Linked DNA regions of Homo sapiens. The protein of the gene in region 2 interacts with the protein of the main gene of each other region in a pairwise test. Each region holds a gene or a part of one and is shown on either strand. Other genes may lie near its edges.

What was found.
Region 1: the proteins of TGFBR2 (region 2) and TRIM43 interact in binary tests that used the Homo sapiens proteins (3 or more experiments, as listed by UniProt).
Region 3: the proteins of TGFBR2 (region 2) and MAVS interact in binary tests that used the Homo sapiens proteins (3 or more experiments, as listed by UniProt).
Region 4: the proteins of TGFBR2 (region 2) and DDX19B interact in binary tests that used the Homo sapiens proteins (3 or more experiments, as listed by UniProt).
Region 5: the proteins of TGFBR2 (region 2) and SLC44A5 interact in binary tests that used the Homo sapiens proteins (3 or more experiments, as listed by UniProt).
Region 6: the proteins of TGFBR2 (region 2) and KLRG1 interact in binary tests that used the Homo sapiens proteins (3 or more experiments, as listed by UniProt).
Region 7: the proteins of TGFBR2 (region 2) and GNAO1 interact in binary tests that used the Homo sapiens proteins (3 or more experiments, as listed by UniProt).

What each region holds. Positions count from the first base shown.
Region 1 is NC_000002.12:95,590,029-95,595,221, reverse strand, and holds the start of TRIM43 (tripartite motif-containing protein 43), read right to left. Parts: upstream 3,222-5,193; 5' UTR 3,073-3,221; intron 1,203-3,072; 5' UTR 1,199-1,202; coding exon 788-1,198; intron 173-787; coding exon 77-172; intron 1-76.
Region 2 is NC_000003.12:30,644,208-30,648,661, reverse strand, and holds part of TGFBR2 (TGF-beta receptor type-2 isoform B precursor), read right to left. Parts: intron 3,916-4,454; coding exon 3,747-3,915; intron 1-3,746. UniProt on the Homo sapiens protein: Transmembrane serine/threonine kinase forming with the TGF-beta type I serine/threonine kinase receptor, TGFBR1, the non-promiscuous receptor for the TGF-beta cytokines TGFB1, TGFB2 and TGFB3.
Region 3 is NC_000020.11:3,856,288-3,860,741, forward strand, and holds part of MAVS (mitochondrial antiviral-signaling protein), read left to right. Parts: intron 1-1,347; coding exon 1,348-1,522; intron 1,523-2,531; exon of another isoform or gene 2,532-2,655; intron 2,656-4,454.
Region 4 is NC_000016.10:70,297,659-70,302,623, reverse strand, and holds the start of DDX19B (ATP-dependent RNA helicase DDX19B), read right to left. Parts: upstream 3,439-4,965; 5' UTR 3,327-3,438; coding exon 3,270-3,326; intron 1-3,269. UniProt on the Homo sapiens protein: ATP-dependent RNA helicase involved in mRNA export from the nucleus.
Region 5 is NC_000001.11:75,600,762-75,605,215, reverse strand, and holds part of SLC44A5 (choline transporter-like protein 5), read left to right. Parts: intron 1-4,454.
Region 6 is NC_000012.12:8,992,162-8,996,615, forward strand, and holds part of KLRG1 (killer cell lectin-like receptor subfamily G member 1), read left to right. Parts: intron 1-44; coding exon 45-149; intron 150-2,957; coding exon 2,958-3,127; intron 3,128-4,454. UniProt on the Homo sapiens protein: Plays an inhibitory role on natural killer (NK) cells and T-cell functions upon binding to their non-MHC ligands.
Region 7 is NC_000016.10:56,197,989-56,201,488, forward strand, and holds part of GNAO1 (guanine nucleotide-binding protein G(o) subunit alpha), read left to right. Parts: intron 1-3,500. UniProt on the Homo sapiens protein: Guanine nucleotide-binding proteins (G proteins) function as transducers downstream of G protein-coupled receptors (GPCRs) in numerous signaling cascades.

The DNA.
Region 1 (5,193 bases), on a different chromosome or scaffold from region 2:
ACTCAAGTTGCTAATATAAATGTTGTCAGCATGCCTGTCTCAAGCTGGTCAGGAGGACTCACGGTCTCATACTTACCCTCCAGAGGAAGGCTGTTCTTCCCTCCTCATATAGATTTCTCTGATTTTCTTGAATCTTTTTCCATAAAATCCTCATTTGCTTTAAGAGTTTCTCCTGCAAAAGAATTACAAGGTTGAACAACAGAAAGTCAAATGCCAAAGATTCCACAATCTGAGTGGTATACACAGGCAAGGGATAATATATAAATACATTAGTGAGAGGAGAAAAAAACAAAATTTTTCATTGCTCATCCTTAATTGATATTTTTCAGTTTGAGGTTTCAGAATGTAGAACAGCTTAGGGAACTGAAGAGTGAAGATTTCCTGTAACCCAGCTAAATTAGTTCAGGGAAACATCCTGCTTCAGAACCCACTATGCTAGCCCCTGATTTTGTAGTGTGCTACTCCCATACTCATTTGTCCAGTAATATTAAATATATTTCCAAAATACCTTTCTTTGCACTGGTAGTTTTGGTAGCTTTTCAATGTCATTAGCATTGAACTGTAGAGTCAATAATAATGACATTTACTTAATCAGTCTCTTTTTGGGTGCAAGCTCCATGAAGGAAGGTAGAGTTGCACATTTTATTCAAAATGTCATCATTGGTACCTAGAACAGCACCTGGCACTCAGTAAAGAATGGAGTAATCACCATGATTCTCATCATCCTTCTAATATCTTTAACTCTGCCACCCTCCAGCTTTCAGGTGATCACAGAGCTATCTCTTACCCGGTGTTCCTCAGCTGCCTCTTCGATGGGATGGTGTTTGTGAGCCCCGTGCTCCTGAGAGTTGGAGCACAGCAAGCAGAGGAGACTCTTGTCCATGTCACAGAACATCTTCTTTGTTTGCCTATGGGTCCCACATATTTGTTTCTCAGAGCTCAGGAATTGCCAGAGACTGGCTTTTCTGGCAATGGTCACTAAATTCTTCAGAAGAATATTGGTTTTGAAGTCCATTTTCGGTGATGGTTCCCTGCATGCAGGGCAGTTTGCAGGACTTTGGGCTTCCTCCCACGAAAGGCAGAGACAGGGCCTACAGAAGCTGTGCCCACAGCAGATGGTGACAGGGTCTACCAGGTAGTTCAAACAGATGACGCAGGTGAGTTCCTTCTGGAAGGCATGTGAGAAGTCTGAGTCCATTTTCCTAAGGAAAGAAAACCACAGGAATTTAATCTTCTACCCTGGAGAGACAAAGATCCAAGCAAAGTTTGAATCAGATCGTGATCGAATAATATCCTTTCTTTCTAAAGAAGTATAGGCTTTAATCTGCAATGACAGAAATAGGAAAAACAGAAAACTAAGGCACAAAGAGACATCAACCTCTATAAAAAGTGACTGTTCTCCAATCAACACATGACCAGCTTTCCAAACTCTACTTTCTTGCATGGAAGAATGTCGGATTTTTTGAGGTGTTAGTATCCACCAAATTGCTTGGGCTTCAAGGGTTTCATCAACCTGTAAACTCAAGGTTTGAGTCTTGAATGGTCTGAAAATCAGTAACACTCTTAATTGCCAGTGATTGGTTTAAAGAAGGAAAGCTAACTAAGCTCTTCTACTCTCATTATTTTATTTAACTATAACAACCATCCATAATGACTTTTCCAGAAGGACATTGCTTGAAAATGTTAGAGCAGAACTCATACTTTGACCCAAATCAGAAAAAGCTAGCCTTTACTCTCCAAGGAAAAACAGTCAAATCAAGGTAAGGCACCTCTCCAAGGTAAAGCTAAGAATCATTGTTTTTCTAGGCTACTATGTTAATTTAATCAACAAAAACTTTCTGGCATGTTTACTGTTCCTGGACAGTCTGTTAATTTGGGGATATACTAGTTAATATTACAACATCCTTAAAAGACAATTAATTCAATTTACAAAAAGATAATGATAATTGAAGCATTATCATTACTCTTTCACACAGTCAGGAAAAGAGTAAGTATCATGCAATAACAGGCACTAGAGGCCGGGCACGGTGGCTCACGCCTGTAATCCGAGCACTTTGGGAGGCCGAGGTGGCTGAGGCAGGCAGATCACGATGTCACGAGCTCAAGACCATCCTGGCTAACATGGTGAATCCCTAACTCTACTAAAAAATACAAAAAATTAGCCGGGAGTGGTGGAGGACGCCTGTAGTCCCAGCTACTCTGGAGGCGGAGGCTGGAGAATGGCGTGAACCCGGCAGGCGGAGCTTGCAGTGAGCCGAGATAGTGCCACAGCACTCCAGTCTGGGTAACAGAGCAAGACTCTGTCTCCCCTCTAAAAAAAAAAAACAAAAACTAGGCACTAGACAGTAAGTCAGCGTTTTAAATGTATGTTTTGCTAAAATACAAATAAAAATAAAAACCAAGCCAGGGAAGGTGACTCAAGCCTGTAATCCCAGCATTTTGGGAGGCCGTCAGGCAGGTTTTTTGAGCTCAGGAACTCTAGACTGGTGACACGGCAAAGTGTCTAGATCATCCTGTCTCTAAAAATACTTATATAAATTTAAAAAAAAAAGGCCGGGCGCGGTGGCTCAGGCCTGTAATCCCAACACTTTCAGAGGCGGAGGTGAACGGATCACAAGATCAAGAGATGGAGACCATCCTGGCCAACATAGTGAAATCCCGTCTCTACTAAAAAAAAATACAAAAATTAGCTGGGCGTGGTGGCAGGCGGCTATATTTCCAGCTACTCTGGAGGCCGAGGCTGAAGAATCGTTTGAACCTGGAAGGCGGAGGTTGCAGTGAGCCAAGAGCGCCGCTGCACTCCAGCCTGGCAATAGAGCGTGATTCCATCTCAAAATAAATAAATAAACAAATAAATAAATAGCTGAACATGGTGGCCCATGTTTAATCCATAAACCTATGGATTATGTTTAAAATAATTTTAAAAAAGAAATGGAGCCGTTTTTAAAACTCAGAAAATGAGATCATTTCATCTAAAAATAATCTAAGTTTGCAGATAAATTAAAGTCCCCAAATTTTGTTTTGGTTTGTAGCTCCTAATAGTAGCTCCTACTCTGGAAATTGTGTACTTACCTCAGAAATATATCTATGTTCTCACCAAAGCTTGCCGTCGAATCAGATGAATTCAGCTCAGGGATGAGAGTCTCACAGTGCAGTGCTGGTAGCTTTCGGAAGTCCCCAAAGCCAGTTGCAAAGCTACTCTGTGGGCTCTGGAGAAGAATGAGCTTGGCTCCTGAAGTGTCGGTTTATAAATCTCTGAAGACCACACCCCTTTCTTCCAATTGATTGCATTTCACAGGGCGTAGGTGGGTGTTAACATAGATGATTAAGTTTCTTCAGAACAGAAGTTTTATCTTTATTTATTTATTTTTTTTGAAAGGAGTCTGGCTCTGTCGCTGGCTAGTTTTTTTCTTGCATTTTTAGTAGAGAGGGGGTTTGATATAATTGATATAATAGGAATTGCAAATAGAGAAGCCCACACAAGCTAACCAAATTAATTCTAGTTTATTGGATAAATGGTATGATATGTATTCTAGTTCAAATTTGAAGGTTGGTATAAACCTTTTCAGACACTGGAGATGAGACATTTCACCAAGATTGGGTGTAAGGAAGAGGAAAGAAATAGAATAGTATATAAAATAGTATATAGAGTAAAAATACAGTAAAAGGAAAAATCAATCTGCATAATATGGTGTATGGCTAAATGTTTTTTAATATTTAGGCGAATCAGACATGGAAAAATCCTAAAAGGGAGATTAATAGAGGAGATAGTTGACTCAGTAAGAACTGTGAAGAAGCATCTCAGGAAGAGAAACTAGAAGTCTTTATATAGGTTTTGATTTAAAGAGGGAGAGAGAATAGGAACATTGAAAAAGAAGGACAGAAAGAAATAACAAATATTCAAGACTCCTTGCAAGAGTGAGGCAGAAAGTTTATAGATTGCTTGATTACACCCAGCATATAATTATTTGAAGTTTTCTGTTGAGAGTGAGAGTATGTAATCCTTTTAACCAAATGTCTCCGCAGAACTATGTGTCATTAAGTAAGGTGATAATCAATATTCAATATCAAAAGATGCATCTATTTCTCGATGAGGAGAAGCAACTTCATCTGCAGGCACTGGACAGCGAAGCCAAATAGCTTTTCCAACAACTACAAGACAGTCAAGTGAGAATGACCCAACATTTAGAAAGGATGAAAGACATGTACAGAGAGCTGTGGGAGACGTGCCTCATGCCTGACGTGGAGCTGCTCCAGGTGAGGAGGGAGGGTCCATCCCCAAAGAAAGGAAGACTTTGCTGGACAATGCTGCCAGGACATGCGAATGTCACCTGCATATGTCACTGCTCTCAGCTTAGTGACACATGCTGTCTGACTCCCACATTACATTTGTCCAGTTTTTCAGAAAAAAGCTACAAAAGAAGCTTATTAGAGGGGAATATTCCCTGTGGTCAGTGTTTGATAAAGGGGAATATAAAATTACATCCACTCAAAGATTCCAAAAAAGCTTGCTTGTTCATGGTTAGGATAAGAATTACATTTCACCTATGTTATTTCTATTTGGAAAAGTTCCTCCCTCTTAGAAGCAGGAGATACATATATGATATATATGGTACATATATGTATGTATACACACATATACATATATATATACCCCCCACACACACACATATCTATGGTGTTGAATAAATAATATCACCTAAGCCAGGGGTGTGCAATCTTTTGGCTTCCCTGGGCCTCATTAGAAATAGAATTGTCTTGGGCCACACATGAAATACACTAAGATTAACTATAGCTGATGAGCTTTAATAAAATGACAAACAAAAATCTCTTCATGTTTCAAGAAAGGTTAGGAATTTGTGTTGGGCCACATTCAAAGCCGTCCTTGGCCGCACGGACCGTGGGTTGGGCAAGCTTGTTGTAAGGTATGAACTTCAAATACTACAAAATTTTTTTAGGCATATTATTGGTTCTTTCCTGGAGCAGCTCCATATCTAGTTTATGGCACATTTTTATCAGCTCCTTATAGATTTTTCTTAGGTGTTTTTTTTTTCTGAACCATTTTGTCTTTTTGCTTTTCTTAAGTTGCTGTAAAATCTTTCTGTCATCATGGTTGTAAGTTTCTCTAAGTGTTGTTTTACTTCTCATGGGGAACTGAATGCAGCTTCCTCTACTCAGCTGTAGTCATCTCTG
Region 2 (4,454 bases):
GGAAGAGTGACAAGCAGAATAATTGGTTGAGGGTGGCTATCAGGACACCAAATGAAACTAAATGAAAGTTGGCATGATCATACAACAAATGATGTATAATTTGGAAATCTACCCATCTTTAACCCCAAAGCTACTTGGCAGTCTTCAAATCAGCTGTAGTCATGGAACAAGAACACCTTCCTCCCTGCCCCCACAGTTTTGTGTGTGTGTGTGTGTGTGTGTGTGTGTGTGTGTGTGTGTGTAGGTTGTTTTTGGTTTGGGTAATAAAACGAAGGTATGCTGTGCCCACAGAAAGGCATGGTCTCTTTTCCTTGTGACGCTTATAGAGGCCTAAGAAGGAACTGTGAGCCATGAAAGAAAGCTGCTCTATAATTATTGGGCAGCTCTTCCAGAGCCTCCGGTTTTCTACCTCTTAGCTACTGAGAGAACTAACATCACAGAGAGAAAACAACTGTAATACTTGAGACCTGGTAAAGCCCTTAACTGCTTTCTCCACTCACTCCTGTAACAGCCAGGCACAGCTAACTTTTCAAACTCTTTTTGGATATAGCTGAGCATAGGAAAGGTAAATACAAAGAAGTAAATACGGACTTCTTTTTTTGTCCTGCAACATTTGCTCTGAGCCACTGAAGAGGTTGTCAATTTCCACTGAAAGAAGAACCAACATGATAAAATTAATTTTGGAGGCTGGGCACGGTGGCTCATGCCTGTAATCTAAGCACTTTCAGAGGCCGAGGCAGGCGGATCACAAGGTCAGGAGTTCGAGACCAGCCTGGCCAACACAGTGAAACCCCATCTCTACTAAAAATACAAAAAATTAGCCACGTGATGGTGGTGTGCACCTGTAATCACAGCTACTCAGGAAGCTGAAGCAGGAGAATCGCACGAACCCGGGAGGCAGAGGTTGCAGTGAGCCCAGATCACGCCATTGCACTCCAGCCTGGGCAACAGTGGGAGACTCCCTCTCAATTTAAAAATAATAATAATAATAATTTTGGTTATAAAATATTTCTATCCTTGGAGGCAGCTTAAGCATTTTATATGGAATGGGCACACAACTGACATTAGTTAAATGAATGAATGAATGAATGAATGAATGAAAAAACACTAAAACTGATTAAAAAAACAACAACACTGAAATCTACAATCATAGTAGAGCCTTTCAGTTTCCACACTGGCTATTTTTACAATAGCCTCCTGTCTTAGTTTAGGTTTCCTGGAAACAGACCTTGAGGCTGTGAGAGTTCTGTGCAGGAGGTTTTTGGAGATGCATCTGTAAGCGACTAAAGGCAACAGTATTGCACAGAAGGAAAAAGCTAAACTATAATGCAGGTTGCAGCAAAGGCCTCAGTGAATGCCTTGGAAACTCTGAAAATGGGATGTCCTTCAAAGATGTACCACATTATGGCAAAATAACCAGGAATTTGTTTCTCTGCATCAACTAGCCATGGGATGATGGCTACCCATGAAAAGTGTCCAACGTGAATGAGGCAGCTCCCATCACTGGAGGGAAGGCTCAGCAGTGATCCTTCAACAGCCAACACTCCCAGGGAATGAGTGCCTTGGTCATGAAGGAGGATCAAGGAGGGCACTATAGCGTACCCTATACTTCCCCTTCTCATTATCAACACCCCTGGCTTCACGGGAGAATTTTCTTTGGCCAGCACAGGTCAAAATAATGTTCATTGTATTTACCCTTTATAGCTGGGACACAGAAAAGACAGGGAGGCCTCCTCTCTTCGACATGCTCACATTTTTTTGAGGCTAGCAAAGCCTCTATTCTAGAGAGACTTGATTCACATTTAATGATTTGGGCTTGTATTACTGGTCAGGAAAACAAAAATCTTAATTAAAAGAGCCTTTTTGGGTTGCAAAAGCAAGTGCTCACACCACCGTAGATATTTAAGAAACCACGGAAGGAAGCTTTGAGGCCATCTAGTCTGGTGTCTCAATCTTTCCTGCATTCTATTTGACATATGGTCATCCAGCCTCTCCTGAACTTCACTTGGTGCTTACAGAAAAGGAAGCCTGTTCTGCTGTTGGGAAACCATGATTGTGAAAATGTCTAAACTTATGCTGAGCACAAGTCTGCCTGCCTTGCAAATGTTATGGATCCTCCCTCTACCCTTCAGAGTTATGCAGAATATGTTTATTATATTTTCTACCTGAGAGCCTTTCAATTTCATCAGCAGAACCCACGATCTCTCTTCACTGTACTAACCATGTCTAATTGCCCAGGCCATTCCTCAGACAGCATGATTTCTAGGCCTCTAACCACACTGGTCCCTCTCCTCTGAACACATTCTTTGTCCAAATCCTTTCTTTGAAAGCGTTACCTAGAAGTGGACATGGACAGGTATCATATCATATTGGCAAGTATGTCATGACAAGTCTTTGCTGTTAACATTCCTTCAGTTCTTAAGAAACCAGTTCATCCCGTGGTATGTACAGAAGTTTGCAAGGTTTCCAGATCTATCATCAAGGCTAGCTTTACATGGTCTAGGGGTCTCAAATGACTCATTCCCAAAAAAGGGGGAGAGATATTTGGGTTTATATTCTTGTTTGTCAACTAGCCAGGAGACACATAAGTTACTTTTTTTAAAATGGCCAATAAATTAAAAACATCAGAATAAGTCTGCAAAATGTCATATCTCATTAATGAATTTATGTACTTTTGTAAAATTACAACTCTTCTAAAGATCAAGGTTATTTCTTGTTCATGCTCACAATCTATAACCATGAATTAATCAAATGATTCATGAGTATCCACTGTGTATGTATAATTATTATTTGAGATGTATGTATGAGTTGGAGGGAATGAGAGAGAGAGAGAGAGAGAGAGGAGAAAATGTGATCCGATAAAAATATATAGTTCTGGTCGGGCATGGTGGCTCATGCCTGTAATTCCAGCACTTTGGGAGGCAGAGGCGAGTGGATCACCTGAGGTCGGGAGTTCGAGACCAGCCTGGCCAACATGGTGAAACCCCGTCTCTACTAAAAATACAAAACTTAGCCAGGTGTGGTAGTGGGCACCTGTAATCCCAGCTACTCGAAAGGCTGAGACAAGAGAAACGCTTGAACCTGGGAGGTGGAGGTTGCGGTGAGCCAAGATTGTGCCATGGCACTCTAGCCTGAATGACAGAGCAAGACTCCATCTCAAAAAAAAAAAAGAAATATGTAGTTCTGAGCTGAGAGAAAGAAGTCATATCTATCCCAATGGTTATATGAATAATATAACCAGAATTTCTGACTAAAAAAACAGGTTGTTTTTGTGGTTCTCCAAGTAGATTCCCCATTTTTGGCTGGTAGTTTTCTCTTCCAACAGCCAACCTTTCATCACCTCTTCTTCCAGACCTGAGATTGCCTCAAGAGAACAAAGCTCCTGGTCTCACTATGGGGTGCTGAGGAGGTGTCGGTTAAATGACTACTAAGCGGCAAATCCCTCTTCTTGATACAAGAAAGAGTTTCCAGATTTATTATATTAAAGATCATTTTATGATCTTTACATTTATCATGATCATTTTATAATCATGATACGTTTATATACCCACATAAACGTACACATACATGCAGAGAACACCCCTAGAAACTACATTTAATAATCGAAAGAGAGATGGTCTAAAGGAAAGGGAAATGGAACAGGTGTTTACATTTAGGAGACAGAGATACACTGACTGTGTGTACTATGAGAATACATTATGTAAAAAGGGGAAAAGAAAGAATAACTTCTTAAAAGGCTTGCTTACCATACAGCCACACAGACTTCCTGTGGCTTCTCACAGATGGAGGTGATGCTGCAGTTGCTCATGCAGGATTTCTGGTTGTCACAGGTGGAAAATCTCACATCACAAAATTTACACAGTTGTGGAAACTTGACTGCACCGTTGTTGTCAGTGACTATCATGTCGTTATTAACTGAGGAGAGAGAAAGATATATTAAATGATTATCCAACTGCCAGGCAGCCTGCCAATGAATTCCTGAAGATGTTATGCAATTTCAAATGAACTTGATGTCATGAGAATGAATCTGAAGAAAGGCAAAATAATTCCTTCACATCAGATTAGAATTATCTGGTGTATGCAATTTGTAATAAAATCCATTGTACCGTGGTGAGGGGTGGTGAGGGGTTGGGGTGGTTGAGTAGCCATTTGCTTTTGTCAATGGTTGTCATAAGGTCCACTTTCTACAAAAATCTTATCATTCAATAAAGAAACCTAGATGGGCCCACTGCATAGTACGGAGTGCTGGGCCCACAAATAAAAGTACCCTTAAGGAAATTATAGTTTAGCTGGTGAATAAGACAGGAAACAGACCAAGTCAGGGTGACCCAAAATAGAGGGCAGCACAGAGGATGTGGGAGCCAGGCGAGCATCACCGCTCAGCTGGGCAGGGAGGCTATAACCTCACAGAGTCATGAAGTGCCACACCAAAGGAGGAACCGTTGCTGGAGGCA
Region 3 (4,454 bases), on a different chromosome or scaffold from region 2:
TCATGATCCACCCGCCTCGGCCTCCCAAAGTGCTGGGATTACAGGCGTGAGCCACTGCGCCCAGCATTTTTTTTTTTTTTTTTTTTGAGATGGAGTCTCGCTGTGTCTTCCAGGCTGGAGTTGCAGTGGTGCCATCTTGGGTCAACCTCTGCCTCCTGGGTTCAAGCAATTCTCCTGCTTCAGCCTCCTGAGTAGCTGGGATTACAGGTATATGCTACCACACCCGGCTAATTTTTGTGTTTTTAGTAGAGACGGACTTTCACCATGTTGGTCAGGCTGGTCTTGAACTCCTGACCTTGTGATCCTCGGCCTTCCAAAGTGCTGGGATTACGGGTGTGAGCTACCGCACCTGGCTATTTTCCTTTTTCTAAAAATCTAGCTCCTGCAGGATTCTGTGGGTTTTTGTTTCTGCTGTCTGGTTGCTTGTTTTTATGTGAGAATTCAGGTAGACATAAAAACTCTAGGGCTGGGCACGGTGGCTCACGCCTGTAATCCCAGCGCTTTGGGAGGCCAAGGCGGGTGGATCACCTGAGGTCAGGAGTTCGAGACCAGCCTGGCCAACATGGCGAAACCATGTCTCTACTAAAAATACAAAAAAATTAGCCGGGTGTGGTGGTGGGCTCCTGTAATCCCAGCTACTCGGGAGGCTGAGGCAGGAGAATCGCTTGAACTCAGGAGGCAGAGGTTGCAGTAAGCTGATATCACGGCACTGCACTCCAGCCTGGGCGACGGAGTGGGACTCCGTCTGAAAAAAAAAAAAAAAAAAGAAACAAAAAAACTCTGCAGCCACTGTCATCTGCCCACAATCTCCCCAGCATTCTCAGCTTCCTTGTTTGTTATTGTCGGCCCCCTCTCTTTCCGTCTTTTGCCCCTTTCATCATACTTTTGCTATCTACCTTTTCCTTCTCTCCTAATCCAAACCTTTCTTTTTGCCCTGGGGGCCATATTAATCCAAGGCTTTTGTATCAGATTAACTGGGTTTGGATTCCTGCCCCACTGTTTTAGGATCTTTGCTACAGTACTTTGCTTCTGCTAAGCCTCAGTTTCCTCATTAGTAAAGTGGAGATAATAATGGCATTAAATAAAGATGATACATGCAAAGCCCTTAATGGAGAGCCCAGGACATAGTTAATTGCCAGTTTCCGGCAGCTGCCTTTATTGATGTGGCTGCTAATTGCTCTTCCTCACTCCATACCTGGCCCTGTCCTGGGCTCCGATCCAGTTTCACGTGGCTGCCTTGCCCTTGTGGCTTTCTTGGCACCCCTCCCCCCGCTGTGGCTTCATTCTGGGTGGGGAAGTGGCAGGGGCCACCTGGCTTGAGCAGGACAGTGGCATTGTGTCTTCCAGGATCGACTGCGGGCCACCTGCACACTCTCAGGGAACCGGGACACCCTCTGGCATCTCTTCAATACCCTTCAGCGGCGGCCCGGCTGGGTGGAGTACTTCATTGCGGCACTGAGGGGCTGTGAGCTAGTTGATCTCGCGGACGAAGTGGCCTCTGTCTACCAGAGCTACCAGCCTCGTGAGCGTCCTGCCCTTGCCCTCCTGGACCCCCAGCCTGCTCCCTGGCCTCCGCTCTCCTTTTCTCTCTCCCTGTACTTCCTGCCTTTCTCTGTCATCCTCTTTCTTGTCACTGTGAAGCGATGAATAAACCTGGGTGTAGATCCAGGCTGAGCCACTTACCAGCTGTGTCCCTTTGGCCAAGTCCCTTAATTTCCCTGAGCCTCAGGCCTCTCTTCTGTAAAATGAAGCTCATGGCAGCATCTGCCGCGGGGAGCTGCAGTGGGTGATACTGCGGGACGATGCGTGTTGAGTATTGAGCTGGGCTGGGCACTTCCTGTATGCCCAGCACATGGAGTCTCCCCTAACTTTCACGGCTGTAGCATTCGCCTCCCACCCTTCCTCATTTCTTCTCCCCCACCTACTCATTCACCCTCCCTCTCTCCTCCTTCTCTTCCCCTCCCCTGGTTTACCCTGAGAGCCTTCGACGCCCTCTATCAGCTGCCCAGTTATTCTTTAAGTCCCTCTCAGTGTCCCTGCCACTCTGAGTGCTCGGAGGCGATTTGATGAGATTGAGTTTGATCCTGAGTGAGATCAAGACATGGGAGGAGGCTGGGCGCGGTGTTTCACACCTGTAATCCCAGCACTTTGGGAGGCCGAGGCAGGCGGATCATGAGGTCAGGAGATGGAGACCACCCTGGCTAAAACAGTGAAACCCCGTCTCTACTAAAAATACAGAAAATTAGCCGGGCATGTTGTCCCAGCTACTCAGGAGGCCGAGGCAGGAGAATCACTTGAACCAGGGAGGCAGAGGTTGCAGTGAGCTGAGATCGCGCCACTGCACTCCAGCCTGGGCGACAGAGTGGGATTCCATCTCAAAAAAAAAAAAAAAAAGACATGGGAAAAAAAATCAAGCCAGCCCTATTTATATTTCAAACTAGAGGTAACCCCCGAGACCCTGGTCACATTTATAGCTGTGGGACATCCATGTTTTTCTTTTCTTTCTCTCTCTTTTTTTTTTTTCCTTTTAGAGACAGAGTCTTGCTGCGCCACCCAGGCTGCAGTGCAGTGGTGCAATCATAGCTCACTGCAGCCTTGACCTCCTGGACTCAAGTGATCCTTCTACCTCAGCCTCCAGAGTAGCTGGGACTACAGGCATGGACAACTACACCTGGCTAATTTTTAAATTTTTTGTAGAGATGACATCTCACTATGTTGCCCAGGCTGGTCTCAAACTCCTGGGCTGAAGCGATCGGCCTCCCAGAGTGCTGGGATCATAGGTGTGAGCCACCGCGTCTGGCTCTCATGCTTGCTTTTCTCTCCTTTTTCCCTTCCTTGCTTTTCCTCCCTCCCTCCCTCCCTTCCTCTCTTCCTTCCTTTTTTTCCTTCCTTCTTTTTAAATATGTCTCTTCATGTGTGGAGATTAATAGTGATCCCTGGCTGGGCACGGTGGCTCACGCCTGTAATCCCAGCACTTTGGGAGGCCGAGGCGGGCGGATCACAAGGTCAGGAGTTCGAGACCAGCCTGGCCAATATGGTGAAACCCTGTCTGTACCAAAAATACAAAAAAATTAGCTGCGCATGGTGGTGCAAGCCTGTAATCCCAGCTACTTGGGAGGCTGAGGCAGGAGAATTGCTTGAACCGGGGAGGTGGAGGTTGCAGTGAGCCGAGATTGCGCCACTGCACTCCAGCCTGGATGACAGAGTGAGACTCCGTCTCCAAAAAAAAAAAACCCAAAAATAGTGATCCCCTGAATACAATGGCTGTGGTAGGGCCTGATGAGGGGTGGGGGCAAAGGGGAGGGGCTCAGGTGGCAGCATCAGGGCAGGGGTCAGTGAGCAATGATAGTCATGTGGAGGAGAAAGCCACTGGGTCCTAGGATGCCTGGGGACAGAGAAGAGTGACTGCTGACACGGCGTGGGTGACTAGAGACCCACGAGGCCCCCCCATACTCCCCTTCCTCCCTTGCTACCTTGTCCTCCATCTGCTCTCACCCTCCCACTCCTGCCCCCTTGCCAAGTGATGCTTGTCACTCCTTTTTTTTTTGAAATGGAGTTTCGCTCTGTCGCCCAGGCTGGAGTGCAGTGGTGCCATCTCAGCTCACTGCAAGCTCCGCCTCCCGGGTTCACGCCATTCTCCTGCCTCAGCCTCCCGAGTAGCTGGGACTACAGGCGCCTGCAACCATGCCCGGCTAACTTTTTGTATTTTTTAGTAGAGATGGGGTTTCACCGTGTTAGCCAGGATGGTCTCGATCTCCTGACCTCGTGATCCACCCGCCTCGGCCTCCCAAAGTGCTGGGATTACAGGCGTGAGCCACCAAGCCCAGCCCTGCTTGTCACTCTTGAGGAGTGGGCCCACATCAGAACAGCTTTTGGACCTATGGGTGGGGCGGGGGGTGTACCCAAGAGCACCCAAGCCTCTTTAATCATGAGGAGAACCCCCAATTCCTTTTTTTTTGAGACAGAGTCTTGCTCAGTCGCCCAGGCTGGAGTGCAGTGGCATGACTTCGGCTCACCACAACCTCTGCCTCCCGGGTTCAAGTGGTTCTCCTTCCTCAGCCTCCCTATAGTCCCTGATTCCTTCTATTTTTTTTTTTTTTTTTTGAGACGGAGTCTCGCTCTTGTTGCCCAGGCTGGAGTGCAATGGTGCAATCTCAGGTCATGGCAACCTTCACTTCCCAGGTTCAAGCAATTCTCCTGCCTCAGCCTCTCGAGTAGCTGGGATTACAGGCATGCGCCTCCACGCCTGGCTAATTTTGTTATTTTTAGTAGAGACAGGGTTTCTCCATGTTGGTCAGGCTGGTCTCGAACTCACGACCTCAGGTGATCCACCCACTTCGGCCTCCCAAAGTGCTGGGATTACAGGCGTGAGCCACCACGTCTGGCTTCTTTTTCTTTTTTTCCCCCGAGACGGAGTCTTGCTCTGTTGCCCAGGCTGGAGTGCAGTGGCGCGA
Region 4 (4,965 bases), on a different chromosome or scaffold from region 2:
GTGTATATATATCCACAGTGGAATTCTACTCAGCAATAAAAAGGAATGAACTACTGATACATGCAACTTGGTTGAATTCTAAATGCATAATACTAAGTGGAAGAAGCCAGACTTTTCAAAAGGTTATATATTATATATATGATTCCATTTTATGACATGTTGGAAAAGGCAAAACTATAATGACAGAAAACATATCAGCAGCTGCCAGAGAAGGGTGAGGAGAGGGAGTGAACTACAAGAAGTTGTAGTTCTTTGTAGAGAGGGTTTATGTGTTGCCTGTGGTGGTAGTTACACAACTGTATGCTTTTGTCAAAATTCATAGAACTGTACACTAACAAAGTTTAATTTTACTCTGTGTAAATTATACCTCCATAAACCTGACTTTTAAAAAAATTAAAGGGCTGGCCAGGTGTGGTGGCTCACGCCTGTAATTCTAGGACTTTGGGAGGCTGAGGCATGCGGATCACTTGAGGTCAGGAGTTCAAGACCAGCCTGGCCAACATGGTGAAACCCCACCTCTACTAAAAATACAAAAAGTAGCCAGGCATGGTGGCACATGCCTGTAATCCCAGCTACTCGGGAGGCTGAGGCAGGAGAATCGCTTGAACTCAAGAAGCAGAGGTTGCAGTGAGCCAAGATCGTGCCATTGCACTCCAGCCTGGCGGACAAGAGCGAAACTTCATTTCAAAAAAAAAAAAAAAATTAAAGGGCCAGTCCAACAGATCCAACATTCATCTAATAAGAGTTCTGGGAAAAGCTATGCAGTGGTGCGCACCTGTAGTCCCAGCTACGAGGGAGGCTGAGGCAGGAGGATCACTTGAGCCCAGGAGTTCAAGGTTGTAGTACACTATGATTCTGCCTGTGAATAGCTACTGCACTCCAAATTGGGCAACATAGACAGACACTGTCTTAAAAAAAAAAAAAAAAGAGAGAGAGAGAAAGAAAGAGAGAAAGTGAGTTCTGGAAAAGAGGGAATTAAGAAAAAACAAAGAAGAAGAAATCAGCAATGAAATTATTCAGGAAAAGTTCTCATAACTGAAGAACAAGAGTTTTTCAGATTGAAAGTACCCACACCCAGGGGCCAGTAATATGGATGAAAATACACCCATACCAAGACATATTACCATAAATTTTCTGAATATTAAAGACAAACAGAAGATTCTCCAAGCTTAGAAAGGGGAAAACAAGTCACATCAAGAATCAGGATGGTCTCAAACATTTCAACAACAAATACAGAAATCTAGAAGGCAATGGAACAATACATTTAAAATTTGGCAGGAAAATAATTTTCAACCTACAATTCTATACCCAGCCAAACTATTATCCAAATTACAGGGCAAAGTTAGATTTTTTAAGACATGGAATATTCTTAAAGTAATTTACTTCCCGTACACCTCCAGAAAGCTGACAGATGGCTGCACTAAAATAAGGAATAAATCAAGAAAGATGGAAAAGTAGGGGTACAGAAAGGAAGGGATCCAAGAGATCCAAAAGACAAGAGAAAGGAGGAAGGAATCTGCAGAATGAGGCTGAAGGGAAATTTGCCCTGTTCCCTCTATTCCCCAATATGAACTGTGCTCTAAAGACAGGAGTAACTAGTCCAATTTGAAGCAGACTTAAAGGCCTAGGAGAAATGGAATTGATAGAATACTTGATGAGTCTAAGCATCCTGAGATAAACTTAGACAACTGGAAGACAGTTTGGGGTTGAATTGATAATTAAGAAAAAAAAATGAAGCATAAACATAAGGCAATTAAGAATTCCAAGTAAAATAAATTTTATAGAAAAGTAAAGGGCCAGGCAAAGTGGCTCAGGCCTATAATCCCAACACTTTGGGAGGCCGAGGTGGGAGGATGGCTTGAGCCCAGCAGGTCAAGACCAACCTGGGTAATATAGTGAGACCTCGTCTTCACAAAAAATTAAAAAGTTAGCTGCATATGTTGGCACATGCTTGTAGTCCCGGTTACTCAGGAAGCTGAGGTGGGAGGATCACTTGAGCCTGGGAAGGGGAGGTTGTAGTTGGCAAGAGATGGTGTCAATGCACTCCAGCCTGGGTGACAGGGCAAGACCCTCTCTCAAAAAATATATGTAAAGAAAGAAAGAAACAGAAAAAAGAGGCTGGATGCAGTGGCTCACACCTGTAATCCCAGCACTTTGGGAGGCTGAGGCAGGTGGATCACTTGCACGCTGGAGTTCGAGACCAGCCTGGGCAACATGGCAAGTCCCCATCTCTACAAAAAAAATACAAAAAGTAGTTGGGCATAGTGGCACATGACTACAGTCCCAGTTACTCAGGAGGCTGAGGTGGGAGGATGGCTTGAGCCTGGGAGGCAGAGACTGCAGTGAGCCAAGATCACTCCACTGCACCCTAGCCTGGGCAACAGAGTGTGACCCTGTCTCCAAAAAAAAAAAAGGAGTTGCCTCTGGGGAGGAAAAAAATTGGCGGGAACCGTTGTTTTTAAAATAACTTCACTCTTTAAACAATGTGTATATACAACTTATTTTTTATGAGCTATAAAAAATAAAAGACAAGGTTCTTATTCTTGAGGAAGTCATAGCAATAAGTACTAACAGAAGTAGGTTCAAAGCCTACTAGGATTTAAAGTGTTTCGGTGGGAGAAATTAATTCTACGCAGTAGTGTTTAACACATCTCTTGCTTACCATGTGTCAGGTCCAGAAAAAAAGAACAAAGTGAAGCCGATGAGGAAAGGATTTGCTGACTGCCACACCTACTGGGTCCATCATTTATCACTGAGGAAGCACACAAATATGAGCAAAGACATGGTCCCTGAGCCAAAGAAGCTCTGAATGTAGAGGTGGAGAATGACACCTAAAATAACTATTACAAACCGGGGCGGCCAGGAACAATGGCTCAGCCTGTAATCCTGGTGCTTTGAAAGGCCGAGGCAGGAAGATAGCTTGAGACCAGGAGTTCCAGACTAGCCTGGGCAACCTAGCAAGACCATGTCTCTATTTCAATTAAAAACAAACAAAACACAATCTAGGGTGATGGGTGCAATCTATGATTCTTCCTGGTTCCAGGAAGACAGACAGGCAGCTGAGCGCTTTACCGATAGGAGCACTCACCTGCGCTTACGTAACGCGGAGGCGGCTGCGTAAACAAAGCCAGCTCAGGGTCCAGGCTCCATCCCTATCCTCCCCGCCACCCCATCCAGCCTCTAATCAACCTGGGAAACATTCTTTCCCAGGGACCAAGTCTCCGACCAGAACTAGTCCCCTGACCCTTTTAGGGCTGAAGCCAACTCACCGACTCAGCCGCAGCTTCCTGCTCGTCCACCGCCAGGGCCCATGAGTCAGTGGCCATGGTCCCAGGCGCGGGTGGGACGCTCGTGCTGGTGGATTCGAGGGATGGCACGAGGGATCGTGGGCTCCGGGGGTTCGCGGCAGGCTCTGCTCCAGCCCCACTACAAGGCTGCAGACCGGAAGCGGCGCGCCACAGTGACGTCGGAGGCCACTCCTGTTTGGCCACCCTTTGCCCACTTGAGGCTGTCGATTCTGTTGCCCTCAGACCCGTACCCCTCAACCCCGGGCAGAGCAAGCTTTCCTATCAAGCTGAGGTAGTTATCTTAAAATGCCTAAGCTCTGGTTAACTTGGATCTCCAACCAAAGAACAAAATCAGATTCCCGCCCAACACAGTGGCAGAGTAGGCACTAATACAGATTGAACAGATTGAATATATCAAAACAGAAAACCATTACCAATAGTCACCAAAATGCAAAACAAGCACAGAGCTGTTTCCCTTTTCAGATTGGTAATTTAAAATGTCCAGATGTTGGCAATCAGCCCTGACAACCCATTTGGTTAAAAGTCCACTTGACCACTATGCAATCTTGTTAGGCATGTAACAAAACTGCACCTGCACTCATAAATTTGTACCCCAAGAGGAGGAATTGCAGCTCTCCTATGTAAGCGTTGTAGAATCAGGAGAATGTTAAAAAGGAAGAAAACAGACGGTGCGGTGGCTCATGCATGTAATCCCAGCACTTCTGGAGGCCGAGGCGGAAGGATCACTTGAGCCCAGGAGGTCTAGGCTGCAGTGAGCCATGACAGGGCCACTGCACTCCAGCCTGGGTGACAGAGCAAAACTCTGTCTAGGAAAAAAATAAATAAAATTAAAATAGTAAAATAATTAAATAGAGCTAGGTGTGGTGGCTCATGCCTGTAATCTCAGCACTTGGGTTTTTGTTTGTTTTTTGAGATTGAGTCTGGCTCTGTCGCCCAGGCTGGAGTGCAGTGGCACGATTTCGGCTCACTGCAACCTCCACCTCCTGGGTTCAAGAAATTCTCTTGCCTCAGCCTCCCAAGTAGCTGGGATTACAAGCATGCGCCACCATGCCCAGCTAGTTTTTCTATTTTTAATAGAGATGGTGTTTCACCATGTTGGCCAGGATGGTCTCAATCTCCTGACCTCGTGATCCGCCTGCCTTGGCCTCCCAAAGTGCTGGGATTACAGGCGTGAGCCACTGCACCCGGCCTTTTGTTTTTTTAAGATAGAGACAGATCTTGCTGTGTTGTCCTGGCTGGTCTCAAACTCCTGAGCTCAAGTGATCCTCCCACCTCCACCTCCCAAAGTGCCAGGATTGGCCAGGCACAGTAGCTCACATGTGTAATCCTAGCATTTTGGGAGGTGGAGGTGGGAGGATCGCTTGAATCCAGGAGTTTGAAAACAACAACATAGCGAGGCCTTATCCTTACACAAGAAAAATTTAAAAATTAGCCAGGTGTCGTCGCACATGCCTGCAGTTCCAGCTACTTGGGAGGCTGAGGTGGGAGGATCACTTGAGCCCAGGAGGTTGAGGCTGCAGTTAGCAGTGTTTGTGTCACTGCACTCTAGTCTGCGCAACAGAGTAAGACTCTGCCTCATAAACAAATAAATAAATAGGAAGAAATATCTTGGGCTTTTAGTAGTTGTAAAATAAGGATTAAATGAAAGAACTGCTTT
Region 5 (4,454 bases), on a different chromosome or scaffold from region 2:
TTTTAAATTCATAGTTTTTAAAAACTTAAAAGGCAGGTTTTTAAATGTAAATTTGCTAGTTCTCTGGATTGTCTTTCAGTGTTCAAAGTCAAAGACAAAAATCAGGCTTTCAAATTGACATTTTAGGAAGCATCCCCCTTGAGAACTGGAACAAGACAAGGATGCCCACTCTTCCCACTCCTGTTGAACACAGTACCGGAAGTGCAAGCCAGAGCAATCAGGCAAGAGAAAGAAAGAAAAGGCATCCAAATAGGAAAAGAAGAAGTCAAACTATCTCTCCTAGGAATCCCTAAAGACTGCCAAAGACTTTTGGAACTGAAAAATGACTTCAGTAAAGTGTCAGGATACAAAATCAATGTACAAAAATCAGTACCATATCTTTACACCAATAATGTTCAAGCTGAGAGCCAAATGAAGAACATAGCCTAATTTACAGTACACACACACATACACACACACCCCTTGGTTTCACCTCTAACCAAGGAAGTAAAAGGTCTCTACAAAGAAAACTACAAAACGCTGCTGAAATAAATCATAGATGACAGAAACAAATGGAAAAACATTCCATGATCATGGATTGGAAGAATAATAAAATGGTCAAACTCCCCAAAGCAATCTACAGATTCAATGCTATTTCTATGAAGCTACCAATGGCATTTTTCACAGAATCAGAAAAAACTATTCTAAAATTCATATGGAAGTAATAAAGTAATAAAGAGCCCAAATAGGCAAAGTAATCCCAAGAAAAAAGAACAAAGCCAGAAGCATCACATTACCTGGCTTCAAACTATATTGTAAGGCTACAGTAAGCAAAACAGCATGGTACTGGTACAAAAACAGACACATAGACCAATGGAACAGAAGAAAGAACCCAGAAATAAAGCTGCATTCCTATAGCCAGCTGACCTTCAACAAAGTAAACCAAAATCAGCAATGGGGAAAGGACTCTCTACTCAATAAATGGTGCTGGGATAACTGGCTATCCATATGCAGAAGAATGAAACTGGACCCCTACCTTGTTTGATATGGAAAAATTAACTCAAGATGGATCAGAGAATTAAATGTAAGACTTCAAACTATAAGAATCTTAGAAGAAAACATAGGAAACACCATTCTGGACATTGACTTTGGGAAAAATTTATGACTAAGTCCTCAAAAGCAATGACAACAAAAGCAAAAATTGCAAGTGAGACCTAATTAAACTGAGTAGCTTTTGCACAACAAAAGAAACTATCAACAGAGTAAACAGACAACCTACAGAGTGGGAGAAAATATTCACAAACTGTGCATCTGACAGAGGTCTAATATCTAGAATCTATAAGGAACTTAAACAATTGAACAAGTAAAACACCAATAACCCCATTAAAAATAGGCAAAAGAAAGACATGAATGGACAGTTCTCAAAAGAAGACATACAATTAAAAAAAAGAAGACATACAAGCAGCAAAAAAAAAAAAAAAAACATGAAAAAATGCTCCACATCACTAATTACCAGAGAAAGGCAAATCAAAAATCACGAGATACCATCTCATATAAGTCAGAATAACTATTATTAAAATTTAAAAATATTTGGGTGAGGCTGCAGAGAAATGGGAATGCTTATAAGCATATATACACTGTTGGGAATGTAAATTAGTTCAGTCACTGTGGAAAGCAGTTTGGAGGTCTCTCAGAGAGCTTAAAACAGAACTACCACTTGACCCAGCAATCCCACTACTGGGCATATATCCTCAAAAAACAAATTATTCTACCAGAAAGACACATGCACCCGCATGTTAATTGCAGCACTATTCACAATAGCAAAGACATGGAATCAACCTAGGTGCCCATCAACAGTGAATTGGATGAAAAAAAAAAAGGTACAAATACACTATGGAATACTATATAGCCAAAAAAAGAACAAAATCATTTCCTTTGCAGCAACATGGATGCAGTTAGAAGCCATTATCCTAAATGGATTAATGCAGTATCAGAAAATCAGATACCACATGTTCTCGCTTATAAGTGGGAGCTAAACAACAGGTACTAATAGACATAAAGATGGCAACAATTGATACTGGGACTGCTAGAGTGGAGAGGGAGGTTGGGGGAAAGGGTTGACAAATGAACTGTGGGGTACTATGCTCAGTACCTAGGTGACAGGATCAACTGTACTCCAAACCTTATCATTACACAATATAACCAGGTAACAATGTGTATATGTACCCCCTGAATCTAAAATAAATGTTGAAAAACTCTCAAACCCAAATTAAATATACATAAATAAATTTACATTTTATTAAAAATGTATTACTACTCTAGATTTGCCTTACAGGAAAGTCAAAACTTATTTTAAGCTTAGCCTATGATTATATACATTTGTACGTACAAGTTTAAAAATATCCAAAGTCATAAAATTTAACAAAAAAGGTAAAAGCTACTTACTGGGCATTTATGCTTCACAAACTAGTATTAACAGCACCTTTCACTTTGAAATACTTTTTTTCGAAGTGAAAAACACATTTTTCTTATTTATCTCAGCCTCTTATCACACTTTTGTTTGGTTGCACAAGAATGTCATCACATTCTTTACTCATGGCAATGACATTGATTCTGCTGATTTAACACCTTTGCTTTACTGAAAGAGTATTGGTGACTAAAGGAGGACCATTATTGCTCTTTAAAAAATGTTTAATCATAAATAGATGTGTCCAGGGATATCTTAACTGTATGAGGTATGATAGGCTTGAAATTATAAAGCACAGCTTTGGAATACACCCCTCCACAATCCTTAACCACTCAGAAAGTCTTACGTTAATACATATTATTTTTTGAACTTTATGAAAACTGCATTGAATAATTATCACACTTCCTACACACCAACTTGTATTTAATGATTTATGGAAACATTACTAAGACAAAAGAAGGACATAGCCTTCACTTGACTAATTCTAAGACCAAGGCTCCCTATGTTTTAACTTCTGTAAACTCTCACTGCCTGAATAAATACCTTAGGTATAATGAAGCGTAGGCAAATAATAGATTATAAATAAGTTGACCGAGGTCAAGAGAGGCATTTAACCTATTTAACCTATTTGGGAAAACAACCCATTTTCAAATTTTTAACAGCAGTAAATGGTAGAAAAGTATACTAATTAGAAATAATCATTTACTAAAGCAAATCTTTGAGGAAGTCTAATGAGTAGTTTCTTTAGCCAATTGCTTGTATTAAAGGACTGGAATAACTTTTGAATATTCAGAATTTTCACAAGTTCAGACTTCCTTCAGTTGGCCCTATTTAATGAGTTTTTATGCTGCATCTTGTATTTCTGAAAATTGAGTTTTTGTTTGTTTTGAGGCTGAGAATTTTGAGAACTGTCATTGTCAGACCAATGTCTCAGGAATCATTAGGAAAACAACTCGGGGTGGGAAGGTGGTTAGATGATGTCGTTGAGTGATCTTTATGGAAGGGAAATTTGTGAGAGATTTTCTAAATAAAGATGCAAGATTTTCATTGCTTTAGATATGCTAAATTTTTTTCCTGGAATCAGTCAGACCTTGAGATAGCTCTTTACCCAGCTTGTGTTATTTTGGTCCCTGCAGAAGTGCTTTTGCTGATTTGTGCTTACCTGTTATAATATTGGCTGGCATTGAGAAACTTGACATTGTATTAAGTTCAAGGATGTTATTTCTCTCTCTTTTTTATTATACTTTAAGTTGTGGGGTACATGTGCAGAATGTGCAGGTTTGTTGCATAGGTGTACACATGCCATAGTGGTTTACTGCACCCATCAACCCGTCATTTACATTAGGTATTTCTCCTAATGCTGTCCCTCCTCTAGCCCCCCAGCCCCCCAGCCCCCGACAAGCCCCAGTGTTTGATGTTCCCCTCCCTGTGTCCATGTGTTCTCATTGATCAACTCCCACTTATGAGTGAGAACATGCGGTGTTTGTTTTTTTGTTCTTGTGTTAGTTTGCTGAGAATGATGGTTTCCAGTGTCATCCATGTCCCTGCAAATGACATGAACTCAAGGGATGTTATTTCTTGTGCTGATCACTGTTTTTAGAATCTGTATTATGAGGATCTCATGGATAAATTTCTCTGAAATGTCGCTAGCCAAAATGAACAATGTCACTCATGGAACTCATTGTGTTTTCCACTATGGGTAGACAGGAAGTCTCAGAACTAATGTTGAGCTCACTTCTTGCTCAAGGTTATGTCATCATAAGTCATGCACTTGATTCATTTTGTTTCTCATATTCTTACTCTTTCTTCTCACTGTCTCTCTTTATACACAGTCATGCATTGCTTAAGTATGGGGCTACATTCTAATAAATGTGTCATTAGGTAATTTTGTCATGCAAACATTGTAGAATGTACTTATAGAAACCTAGATGGTGTAGCCATATCTAGTTATACACATAGATAGGCTATATGGTATAGCCTATTGCTCCACTCCTAGGCTATATATCTG
Region 6 (4,454 bases), on a different chromosome or scaffold from region 2:
CCTGTCATCTGACTCAGGATTGTGCTTTGACTCTGTTGTTGCAGCTTCCTCTTCCAGGCCTTCTTGTTCTTGCCTTGTGGCAATAGCTTTGGGGCTTCTGACTGCAGTTCTTCTGAGTGTGCTGCTATACCAGTGGATCCTGTGCCAGGGTAAGTGCAAACTTAAACCAAAATTAATCTTTCATTTTATATTATAAAAGCAATATAACATAGCAGAAGCTTTGAAAAATCAAAAAATAATTCAAACAAAATAACTCTCCATCTGTATACAGCTATTTCCTGGGTATAGCCTTTGACCATGTGCACTTGTGTAAGCTTGTATTTTCTTTTTTCTTTTTGTTTTTTGAGACAGGGTCTCCCTCAATCAGCCAGGCTGTAGGTGATAGATTTGTGTGCTGCTATACCAGCGGATCCTGTGCCACTGTACAGTCACAGCTCACTGCAGCCTTGACCTCCTTAGGCTCAAGTGATCCACCTCAGCCTCTCGAGTAGCTGGGACCACAGGCACATACCACCATGCCTGGCTAATTTTTGTATTATTATTATTATTTTTTTTTTTTTGTAAAGACATTTCACCATGTTGCCCAGGCTGATCTCAAACTCCTGGGCTCAAGCCATTTGCCCTTCTTGGCCTCCCAAAGTGCTGGGATTATAGGTGTGAGCCACTGCACCTGACCATATTTTCTTAATAGAACTGCAGTCAAGTCCTCTTAAAATTTCTCCCACCTTTCTTTCTTTTAATGCAAGGCTGAGAATAGTTCTTATCGTAGTATGCTCATAATTTTGTATATTGCTTTTTAATTTTATGTTGCCAGAAACATTTCCTTACTGCCATATTTATTGGGATGATTGAATTATAATATTAATGATGTTTAACTTTTCACATAATAGATATATCATAATGTAATGAAACATTCTGAATTTTTTTTTTTTTTTTTTTTGCCATTCAGGTGCTTTCACATTTTCTAAAACTAATTTTTAAGTTTAGTTCTTCTAGGACCTTAAATCTGGTGATCTAGAGGACTCTCAGTTTGTTGTTTTACAGTCTAGAGTCCTAGCTTAGGTTTATATTTTTAGGGGATGATAGTGACCGATTACACAGAAGTGATTTATTAGGGTTCTTTTTTAAATTTTTTTAAAAATTTTGAGACAGAATCTCGCAATGTTGTTTGGGCTGGAGTGCAATGGCGTGATCTCGGCTCACTGCAACCTCTGCCTCCCAGGTTCAAGCGATTCTCATGCCTCAGCCTCCCGAGTAGCTGGGATTACAGGCACCTGCCACCACGCCCAGCTAATTTTTTGTATTTTTATTAGAGACGGGGTTTCACTATGTTGGCCAGGCTGGTCTCGAACTCCTGACCTTGTGATCTGCCCGCCTTGGCCTCCCCAAGTGCTGGGATTACAGGTGTGAGCCATTGCGCTCTGCCGATTTATTAGGATTCTAAGAGTTCAGCTCCAGGGCTTCTACCTCAGAGCCAAGTCCGACCTTTGACAAAAAGGAACTCCTAGGGAAGTTGGGAATTTCTAATCCAGGCTGAGTAATGTCACAGTTGTATGGAAAAAGCAAAATCTATAAGGTGCCAATTTAACAGCTTGATCTCCAGAACTTATATTGGTTGTATGCCAGTACTTCCTAGAGAACAATTATCTAATATTTATATGAAAAATACTACTTTCCCCACTTTGTAACTCCCAAATCTAGAGTAGATATATACTCTATTCTGCAATTATATATCTACACATGTGCTCATGGAGTATAATGGCTCATACTTGCTCACTGTAGAATTGTGCTTATGGCGAGTTTATGCACATATGTTTAAGTATTGAAACTGAAGTAGAAAAATCAATAGAATTTTGGAATCTTGGTTGGAATTACCTTGAAAGCATATTCAGTTCCCTTTCATCTTTGATTGTTTGTTTTTGAGACAGTGTCTTGCTCTGTCGCCCAGGCAGGAGTGCAGTGGTGTGATCTTGGCTCACTGCAACCTCTGCCTCCTGGGTTCAAGTGATTCTCATGCCTCAGCTCCTAAGTAGCTGGGATTACAGGCGGGTGCCACCATGCCCAGCTGATTTTTTTGTATTTTTAGTAGAGATGAGGTTTCACCATGTTGGCTAGACTGATCTTGAACTCCTGGCCTCATGTGAGCCACCTGCCTCGGCCTCCCAAAGTGCTGGGATTACAAGAGTGAGCCACCATGCCTGGTCAGTTCCCTTTCATCTTGACAGAACTATGAACCAACCATTTTAAAGGAATGTGGATCTTCCGTATTTAAAAGAGCTCGGTTAGGGCATTCTATCACTTTTCACTTTAGCACCTGTTATGCTTCTCTGCCAGAAAACCCTTTTGAAAAATATCAAAGTAAGTTCTTTTTGCTGAGGTATAAGGGTTTTTTTCCAGTTTTCAATGGTGAGGGACAGTTACATCTGTGATAATAAAAAAGCAAAACCTTTCATTCTAGTTAAGTTTGCTTTTCCTAATTTCTTTTTGGCATTTTCAGTTGGGCATTCTGAATGATTCTGCCTGATTTAAGCAATATACATTATGCAATTATGCAATATATACACAGAGCAAAGACAGTACACAGATGCATATCATATGAATTCACAGTTATCTGGTGTGTGTATATTACATGTGCACAGAGATCTCTAGCACAAGTCAAGTACTTGCTCCAGAGTTTTCAGGCAGATTGTTGTATGCTTTCTTCTTTGTTCCTTCAGTTATAGTCATATTCTTGTGTAGTGGAATATATACTTAGTAGATGATGGAGTTGGACATTATGAGGACATTATGAGGTATTCAAATTGACACCACGCATTGTTACACATTTCTCTAACCCTTAATCTGAAAAGTGGTGGAGCAGGGAAGACCCAGGGCTGCCATATTCCATTTTATCTCCCATTTCATTTCCAAGACTGAGTGGTCCATAAAGATGTGAACCAGGTCCTCTTCTCTCCTAGGCTCCAACTACTCCACTTGTGCCAGCTGTCCTAGCTGCCCAGACCGCTGGATGAAATATGGTAACCATTGTTATTATTTCTCAGTGGAGGAAAAGGACTGGAATTCTAGTCTGGAATTCTGCCTAGCCAGAGACTCACACCTCCTTGTGATAACGGACAATCAGGAAATGGTAAATGCAAACATTTAGAAAATGTAGGGTTTTTGTTTTGTTTTTGTTTTTGTTTTTAAACTGCTATTTAAATGTATCATGTATCCTCTTTTAAGGAACAGAAGGAATCTGTGATTTGGGGGGGATACTATATTCTTCCCCTTCCCTCTTCTTCTCTTTCCTCTTCTACTTCTGCCTTCTTCCCTCTCCCTCCCCACTCTTTACCCTTATGCTGTCTGACCCAACAAACCTCAGTTACAGCAACCCAGATGCTTGTATAGCATGTAAGTGTGTATGTGGGGCAAGGAGGCAGAAGGATGGTGAGTGTTTTGGAGAGGAATGAGACCTGAAATACAGGTCTAGTTAAAAGAAGTCTTAGGTCCGGAAACCTACAGGTCCAACAACAAGGCAGCAGATTCTTTTTTTTTTTTTTTTGACAGAGTCTCCCTCTGTCATCCAGGCTGGAGCACAGTGGTGTGATCTTGGCTCACTCCAACCTCCGCCTCCCAGGTTCAAGCGCTTCTCCTGCCTCAGCCTCCCAAGTAGCTGGAACTACAGGCGTGTGCCACCATGCCTGGCTAATTTTTTGTATTTTTAGTAGAGATGGGATTTCACCATGTTAGCCAGGATGGCCTTGATCTCCTGACCTTGTGATCTGCCCGCCTCGGCCTCCCAAAGTGCTGGGATTACAGGCATGAGCCACCGTGCCAGTCCTTATATAGTGGAACTTGGGAGGGAGGGAAAGATAGAGATCACGGGGACAGAGTGATTGTGGCAAGGGCTTAAATGCCTTCTTTTAAAAAGTTTTCCCTTAATTCACTGGAATCCAATAAGTTCCAGACTGCAATGTTGAGAAAGTTGGGATATAAGGAAGAAAACACGCGTGCACGTGCATGTGTGTGTGTGTGTGGTGGCCTCCACTTCCTTCAGGCCCCTCAGATCCTTCCTATCCACCCAGCAATCTCTTGGAAAAGAGCTTGCTATTGGTCCTAGACCATCTCAAGGCAATACAAGGAACTGACATCCTGAGGTTGCCTAGTATAAAAATCAATCAAATTCTAATTTGTCAACATAAATAACATCTATAAGGAAAACAAGAAATCTTAGTTTTGTGTTAGTGCTAATTTGATACTGATTTTTGTGTTTTGCTATTGTTTTCTGTTTTCTTTTATTGGGTAGGATCTAGTCACAGAGAACAATTTATTGAGAATTAAACTATATTAACTTACCTTGGGAAAAATCCAGAGGTTACTCTAAAGCAGTGGGGGAGAACATATAGTTCCTAAATTTTATAGCTACCTATATAACTACCTATATAAAGCATACAGATTCTTGTTTTCTGCCAAAG
Region 7 (3,500 bases), on a different chromosome or scaffold from region 2:
GAATACATCTTGATCTGAAAGACAACAGAAAAGCTGGTGAAGGGGTGATTCCAAACTGAAAAAAACAAAACAAAACAAAAAAAACCACATTTTGGAAAGAGTTACCCTCAGAATTGACACTAATAGAGAAAACTTTTGATTCTGAAAAAAGAAAGTGTGCCTGTTTGTACATACCCACAGAGTGTGGGTTTACAAATGGCAGATGTTGAGAAGAGCACTCACCTCACTTTCTTACTGATTGCATCATCTTAAAAAGCTTGAAGATGCTCAAATGAACTCCATCCTAAGAATTTCTTCAAATCTGTGTCACATTCTTATTTTCTTCCATCCCTCTCATTCACACACAGCATTGGTAGAAAGGAAGCTGTCCAACAGATCTGTGATTAGCACTGAGGGGAAGGAGAGGAGAGAGCAGTGGCTTGTTAACTGGTTCAGATAAATAGGTAGTTTCTTGTGTTTAGAGAAGCAGTTTAGCATGCTTCTCTAAAATTGAGAGTTGGTTAAGAGCATAGACTCTGCAAACAGGCTGCCTGGCTTCAAATCTTGGCTCTACTGCTAACTAAATATGTGACCTTACACAAGGCCCATAACATTTGGTGCCTCAGTTTCCTTACCTGTAAAATGGGACTGATAATGAAAATAACTACTAATAGGATTGTGGAGAGCATGAAATGAGTTAACATATGAAATGTGCTTTGAGTAGTGTCTAGAATGTAGAAATCATTATACAAATGTTAGCTCTAGTTTTTATTCCTTTGATTAGTGGGTGTTCCCTTCCCATGTGGAGTTCTCTTGTCAAGTAAGTATGTGGGACTTAGCCACCCTGAGAAGCAGAAGGGGGGTGCTGTGGTTCATGTTCATGGCTTCTTCCCCTTGCCTGCTCTGCAGCACCAGTTATATAACAAACTGTGTTGTCATAACTGATGTGACATTTTTGATGGCGCAGCTGCTTCAGCCCAAGAGCTGGGGTGACATTTCAAAGGGTGGGAAAGAGCACTGAACCAGGAGTCCAGGTCAGTAGCTCTGCCTCTGCCCCTCCGAGGGCTCGGTTTCCTGAAAGAGTTGGACCAGGGCTACCCCAGGCTCCCTTCCTGTTGTCAACGGTGTATGAAATTGGGAATTCCCTTTGTTTTCAGGGTCTTGATGTTCTCAATATTAAAGCATGAATTATGGTTTTATCCCATGGGGGTGTAGGGTATCCATGAAAGTTCTTTTAAGACTAAGTTAATTGCAGAATAGCAACCTCAGCCACAGAGCTTTGTCAGCCAGGAAATTTGTAGTTCTGAGAGTCAATTTGAGAAAAACACCTCTAACCAAACTTTTCATGCAGACATGGTTCTTAAACCAAAGAGGAGGATCTGAAAGTATCTCATTAGTAAGAAACAGGATGTTTCTGGGAGGAGAGAGCCAGTGACATTAGAAGAGAAGTGGTTTTTCCGTGGCTTCCAGGATGCTCAGAAGTGGAGACAGCCCTAGCGTTCACCAGAAATGGCTGCATATGAAGAAACTTGCCTGGGTTAAGGTGCCTAAAACCCAGGGAGCAGAGAGATTTGCAGACTAGTAAAAGGGGAGGCTCAGGAGAACTGTATTTTAATTTTGATTCACTCTCTCATTTAACTTTGGGCAGATCATTTGGCCACCCTGGGCCTCAATTTGTTCATCTGTTAATTGGGATGTGGGTTTTCACCATAGAATTTCTCAGGGCTCTTTCGGGTTTCCAGCTCTAAGATGCAGTAAATGCAAAGAGAAACTTAGAAGCCTGAAAGGCGGTGGGGAATAGTGGGAGTATTTACCACCCACAGCTTTTATCTGCTGAGCCATCTTTAGTTCTAATTTTCTTTACAGAGAAGAGGAAAAACATTGTGCTTTTCATAGCACCAAAAAATTAAAGTAAAATAAAATCTTGCAAGGCTAATAGTTGGTGCCCTGAATTTGGCCCCTTACTCTCTTGATTTGTCAACCATCCTAGAAATAAGTAGAATGGAGAAAAGAGAAAGGGAGAATAATACATAAGACTAGGATTTCATAGCTAACAATTTACCTTGGATTCTCTGCCTGTGTCTTAGCCAACAGATAGGTTTTCTGTAGAATATTGTTACTTATGAGAATAGCTTCTCCATGCTTTAAAATTGATCCTGGGGTCACCTGACCCCAGGGTCTCAGAGCACTAATGCATATTGCACATTGTGAATTAATTAGGTGTTTATTTGTCTGTATCCCTTGCTAGCCTGGGTGTCCCTTCCCACCAGGGCTCCCTGAAGCAAGGATGTTACTTATTTTTGCTCATAGTACAGCACCATGCCCAATGCCTGGCACAAAGGAGGTCTTAATAAACGTTAGTTAAAGAAAAGGAAGAATACGAGGTATATAAGGAATGAACCTTATTATTCTCCATAAACCAAAATAATCATGTTGAAAGCTTTTGGTGGCCATGGAATGTGTTCATCATTTTCAATCTATTATATTCATTTGTTTATCAACCTGTGAGCAAATATAGTCATCAATTCCATTTTACAGATGAGGAAGTGAGGTTCAAAGAAGTAAGGTGGCTTGCTCAAGGCCACACAGCTTAGTAGGTGACAGTGTTGTATTCAGACAATGATTTGTCTAATTCTAAAACCTGTGTTCTTTTCGTTGTAACTCCACACCTTTCTTACTAGACCACCCCCAGTATGGGCAGTAGAGACCTGGCAGTCTACGACCTCACACCCAGATGTTGATGGTGCCAGCTGTGGTTGAGGTCAGTGGCTGAGAGAATAGAAAGTGCCTAATTGGTGCTGAGTTCCTTCTGGAGGTGGTAGTAATGGTCATCATATATCACATTGATTTGGATACCAGAGTATTCCCTAGCAACCATCTGGACAGGCCTTGAAATGATTTTTCATTACCGCCTCAAAAATGGGGGCCATTTTCAGATTGCAACAGAGAGAAGGCTCTGGCTTTGGTGGAGGCAGGTGTCTTGGAGAACTATGGAAAGACAGGATGGTAGGGGATCCATCCATCTGTCCATCCATAAGCATTTATGATTGCCTATTTTGTGGGTAGCATACACACAGTGTCATGGAAGTAGAGAGGAAGGCCTCAGTCCTTGTCCTGAAGGAACTCATGGTCTGGAGGGAGCTACACAAAAAAGACTCTTGCACTTCAGGTAGGAAGGGCCACAATGTCTGTATACACAGTGTGCTATGGTAGAACAGAAGGCACCTTCTCTAGGCAGGAAGTTCAGGGAAGACAGCCAAGAGACAATGGCATGTGAACTGAGCCTTTAAAACAAGTGGTAGTTCACCAGGTCGAAAAAAAGGAATGCCAGGCAGAGGGACTGGCATGTGTAAAGGCATTAAGATGTCACCACATGGAACATGCTAGGAGTGTAAAATAGTTTGATTTGACTAGAGCAAAATATGTAAGAGGAGTGTTAAGAAATGAGGAATGAAAGATTGGACAGAAACCAGATCATGAAAGGCCTTATCTATTGTGCTAAGGACTTTGGATTTTATTCT